2 separate regions of the Homo sapiens genome follow, and region 2 is linked to region 1. The links come from fine-mapping of genetic effects on gene expression. Tissue or cell type: whole blood. Region 1 holds a variant in brackets; the other region holds the start of a gene. All regions are shown on one strand. Distances are from middle to middle.

Region 1 (2,756 bases):
GCCTGAGAGTCAGGCCTTGTTGGACAAGTTCCCCTAACGTGCTAAGCAGAGACCTGTTTCACAGGCCAAAAGAGCATGGAAGCTCAGCCAGAGGGACCCAGGCGGGCCCACCTCACGCCTGTGTTCCTCGGCAGCCTCTGCTGCCCCCTGGTGGCCATGCTGTGCACACCGCCACCAGACGAGGGCGCCACCCACAGGCACCACCTGCTCCCACCCTCAGGCAGTATTTCAATGGTCCCGTGGCTCTGGGCCACGCCCACATGACTAGCAGCCACAGCTGATCCCATGGCCTGTTGGCCACCCCATCAGCAGCCCCTGCTTCTGATTTCTCCCCGTGCTTTTTTTTTTTTTGGAAACAGAGTCGCCCAGGCTGGAGTACAGTGGCACAATCTCAGCTAACTGCAACCTCTGCCTCCCAGGCTCAATTGATCCTCACACCTCATACCCCCAAGTAGCTGGGACTACAGGTGCACGCCACCACACCCAGCTATTTTTTTTTTTTTTTTTTTTGTATTTTTTGTAGAGACGGGGTTTTGCCATGTTGCTCAGGCTGGTCTCAAAGTCCTGGGCTAGGATGACAGGCATGAGCCACCGTGCCCAGCCTTGCCTGCGCTTTTCCTCCCACACTCCAACCAGATCCGCAGACGAGGCTGAGGGGCCCTCCATCTAATCAGAAAGGGCAGCCCTCTGCATGGACAGGCCCATAAGCATGTGGCTCAGCAAGGACGTGGCATCTTGTACAGAGTGCACAGGCCAACACATGTGCACACACAGGGGCGTAAGGCCACCAGGTTAGGTCTCTGTTCTGCACATGGGAGGGCCCCGCATCCAAGCTTCCTGCCCTTAGTTCCCGTATGTTGTTCATGCACCACTGTGAGACCCCCATGGCCCTGCCCGCTGCTGCCCTGCCCACCCCCTAGCTCTGGTGCCTCAACCTCCAGGACTGCAAGCACCCCAGTCCTTTCTCTCACAGACTCGCCTTACCTCTCTGAGACAGAAGAACAAGTCAGTCCCGTGGCTCACTCACAAAGCCAGCCCTGAACCCAGGTCTGACTCAGATGCCAAAACCTCCAGCCATCCCAGGGACTGGCCCCACCCCATGGTGGGCTGTGCCGCGGCTCTCAGCTGGACACAGCCCCTGTGGATGTACTGTGGCAGGCGGCCTGCCTTTCCTGATGCCCCAGCACCGCCACATGCCACCCATCTGGGCCTCCAGAGCTATACCTGCAGCAAGGCCAGGTCCGCATCTTGGGCTAGCTGCTGCAGGTTCTTCACAGCAGATGTGGTCTTGATCACCCGCACTAGGGCAGGGGAGCAGTCAATAGGAAGCTCACCCAGCAAGGACTTCTCATCACTGAGCAGCAGCAGGGCATGGTAGGGGCTGCAAAACAATCACCTGTCACGGAACACACGAAGTGCAGGAACCCTGCACC[G/A]GGTATGCACCAGGTCCTGCACCAGGTATGCACCGGGTATGCACCAGGTCCTGCACCAGGTATGCACCGGGTATGCACCAGGTATGCACCTGGGACTCAAACACACGGAACATACGAAGTGCAGGGAACCCTGCACCAGGTATGCACCAGGTCCTGCACGAGGTCCTGCACCGGGTGTGCATCAGGTATGCACCTGGGACACAAACAGGCAGCTGGAGCCTCCTGGCCCTTAACTGCGGAGAGAAGGGCCAAGAGCGGGATTTGAGAAAAGGGCAGTGGTCTGTTTGGAGGCCTTCACAAAATCTGCCAAGGACTGGCTCATGCCTATAATCCCGGCACTCTGGGAGGCCAAGGCAGGCAGGTCACGTGAGGTCAGGAGTTCGAGGCCAGCCTGGCCAACATGGTGAAACCCCATCTCTACTAAAAATAAAAAAATTATCCGGGTGTGGTTGCACCCACCTGGGGTCCCAGCTACTCGGCAGGCTGAGGCAGGAGAATCACTTGAGCCTGGGAGGCGGAGCTTGCAGTGAGCCGAGATTGCGCCATTGCACTCCAGCCTGGCGACAGAGTGAGACTCTGTCTCAAAAACAACAAAAACAAAACCTGCAAGGATTATGTCACCCTCGGAAAAAAACACGACAAAAGTGGGGAAGGCTCGAAGACTGGACTCTGTATCCCACCTCAGAGACGCCCAGCAAACATCTGTTGATTGAAGACATGAATGAATCTTTCCTAAGGAAATTGTCCCAAATATGGGAAAAGCAAAATCCTCCTCACAGACTAGGGACCAAAGTACATTAAAATATGCTTAGCTAGGATTGAAAGCAAAGAGCACGGACTGGGGAGGGTGGAACTAGGCAGCGCTTTGCTTTCTGTCATTTCCAAATTTTCAGCAATGTGCCCAGATATATTTTTATAATTAAAAAATGTTCAAGGTATTGGGGGACTTGGGAACAGGTGGTGCCAGAAGACTGGGCTCAGTTCTTTCCTTGCAGAAAATCAATTAAATTGCCAGGGCATGGTGGCTAACACCTGTAACCCAGCACTTTGGCAGGCCGAGGCGGGTGGATCACGAGGTCAGGAGTTCAAGACGAGCCTGGCCAACATGGTGAAACCCCATCTCTACTAAAAATACAAAAATTAGCCAGGTGTAGTGGTGTGCACCCATAATCCCAGCTACTCAGGGGGCTGAGGCAGGAGAATCGCTTGAACCCGGGAGACAGAGGCTTCACTGAGTGGAGACTGTGCCACTGCACTTGAGCCCCGAGCAAGACTACATCTCAAAAAAAAAAAAAAAAAAGTCAATTAAATTAAGAAAGTATA
Region 2 (2,627 bases), 41 kb after region 1:
GTGGCGCGATCTCGGTTCACTGAAACCTCCGCCTCCCGGGTTCAAGCAATTCTCCTGCCTCAGCCTCCCAAGTAGCTAGGATTATGGGCACGCACCACCACGCTCGGCTAATTTGTTTTTTTTTATTTTTATTTTTTCAGTAGAGACAGAGTTTCAACCATGTTGGCCAGGCTGGTCTCGAACTCCTGACCTCAGGTGATCCACCCGCCTCGGCCTCCCAAAGTGCTGGGATTACCGCCACCGGCCTTGTTCGTGTAATTTTGTATTTTCTCATGATGAATACATCCCAAACTCATTTTATTTTATTTTACTTTATTTTTTAAAGGCTGGAGACTGATGAAATGTCAGCAGTAGTTGCTTTGGTGTGGTGAACAATGCATGATTTTAATTTTTTTTTTCCTTTTTCTACTTTTCAAATACTCTACAACGAGCAGATCTCGAATGCCCAGCAAAAGCTAAGCTCCGCGAGGCGGCCCTGGAATGAGGCGACCCCGGAATGAGGCGGCCCCCGCGAGCGCCAGGCCCCCGCCCAGCGCTCACTTACTTGTCTGGGACGCCGGGTGCTCCTGGCTTCTCTGGAAGGGGTACCTGAACAGCAGCTTATTGCCCCTGCTCCCCGAGCTCACCAGAATCACGCTGATGGGGCTGGTGTTGTCCCGCATCCCGCCGTGGGGCCGGGGCCGGGGGCGGAGGGGGCCAGAGGAGGACGGAGCCGGAGGCGGAGGGGGCCTGAGGAGGACGGAGCCGGAGGCGGAGGGGGCCTGAGGAGGACGAGGCGGGGACGCAGGGGGCCTGAGGAGGGCAGGGGTGGAGGCGGAGGGGGCCTGAGGAGGGCAGGGGTGGAGGCGGAGGGGGCCTGAGGAGGGCAGGGGTGGAGGCGGAGGGGGCCTGAGGAGGGCAGGGGTGGAGGCGGAGGGGGCCTGAGTAGGGCAGGGGTGGAGGCGGAGGGGGCCTGAGGAGGGCAGGGGTGGAGGCGGAGGGGGCCTGAGGAGGACAGGGGTGGTGGTGGACGCGGAGCAGCGCCACAGTTACCAACCCACGTGCCACGCTCCGGGCTCGCGAGACTTCGGCGACACCGTCCGGAGGAGGTGCTAAGGCGGCGGCCGGGAGAACGGCGCAGGCGCAGGCGCAGGCGCAGGCAGCGGAATGCGCAGGCGCGGGGCCTTCTGGAAGCCACCGAGTTCCGCGGTGCTGTCTGGAGCCGTACGGTTCGCGTTTGGGGCACAGGGGCCCCTCTTGCTGGTGCGGATGGGAAAGGCGCGGGGTCGAGTCAGCGTCCCTCTCGATGTTGGTTTCTTCGTTTTACAAATAACACTTGGGCGGGGCGCGGTGGCTCACGCCTGTAATCCCAGCATTTTGGGAGGCCGAGGCGGGCGGATCACGAGGTCAGGAGATCGAGACCATCCTAGCTAACATAGTGAAACCCCATCTCTACTAAAAATTAGAAGAAATTATCCGGGCGTGGTGGCAGGCGCCCGTAATCCTAGAGGAGAATCGCTTGAACCCGGGAGGCGGAGGTTGCATTGAGCCAAGATCACGCCATTGCACTCCACCCTGGGCGACAGAGCGACGAGACCCCGTATCAAAAAAAAAAAAAAGAAAGAAAGAAAGAAAAAAGAAAAAAAAAAGGCCGGGCGCGGTGGCTCACGCCTGTAATCCCAGCACTTTGGGAGGCCGAGGCGGGTGAATCACGAGGTCAGGAGTTCGAGACCATCCTGGCCAACATGGTGAAACCCCGTCTCTACAAAAAAAAAAAAAAAAATTAGCCGGGCGTGGTGGCGGGCGCCTGTAATCCCAGCTACTCGGGAGGCTGAGACAGGAAAATCGCTTGAACCCGGGAGGCGGAGCTTGCGGTGAGCCGAGATTGCGCCACTGCACTACAGCCTAGGCGACAGAGCGAGACTCCGTCTCAAAAAAAAAAAAAAAAAAAAAAAACACTTGGAAGCCGACAGGAGATCTTTGAGACCTTGGGCGAGGCAGTGACACTAAAGGCAGGAGCGACTACAGAAGAATAAATTAAACTTCATCAGATTAAAAACTTTACTGCGGCCGGGCGCGGTGGCTCACGCCTGAAATCCCAGCACTTTGGGAGGCCGAGGTGGGCAGATCATGAGATCAGGAGATCTAGACCATCCTGGCCAACATGGTAAAACCCCGTCTCTCTACTAAAAATACAAAAATTAGCTGGGTTTGGCGGCGCCTGCTTCTAATCCCAGCTACTCGGGAGGCTGAGGCAGGAGAATCGCTTGAAGCCGGGAGGCGGAGGTTGCAGTGAGCCGAGATCGTGCCACTGAACTCTGGCCTGGCGACAGAGCGAGACTCCATCTCAAAACAAAACAAAAACTTCGGTGCTTTAAAGGACACCATCAAGAAAATTAAAAGTCCACCCACAGAACGGGAGAAAATATTTGTAAGTTACATATCTGATAAGGGAATTGTATCTAGAATGGAGGAAACTTACAACTCAACAATAAAAAGACAATTGAAAAATGCACAAAGGATATGAATATTTTTCCAGTGCATTATGCAAATGGCCAATAAGCACCAGAAGATGCTCAGCTCAACTGGTAGAGGCTTACGCCTGTGACCCCAGCGCTGAGAGGCCAGGAACTCCAGACCAGCCTGGG

What was found. PIP is the estimated chance that this variant, and not a neighbour inherited with it, causes the effect.
Region 2: it holds the start of NPRL3, and the variant in region 1 is fine-mapped to the expression of NPRL3 in whole blood (INTERVAL, PIP above 0.99).

The regions. Positions count from the first base shown.
Region 1 is chr16:96,921-99,676 of GRCh38, forward strand. NPRL3 (NPR3 like, GATOR1 complex subunit) reads right to left here. Exons shown (of 14, transcript NM_001077350.3): 9 at 1,225-1,381. Among named protein-coding and RNA genes, the nearest start is that of MPG, 20 kb to the left of the region's middle. The variant G/A (reference allele first, on the strand shown) is at 1,434.
Region 2 is chr16:137,606-140,232 of GRCh38, forward strand. It overlaps NPRL3 (NPR3 like, GATOR1 complex subunit), which reads right to left and starts at 1,068. Exons shown (of 14, transcript NM_001077350.3): 1 at 1,037-1,068; 2 at 545-729. The coding sequence starts at 662. RefSeq lists a silencer at 498-727 and an enhancer at 948-997.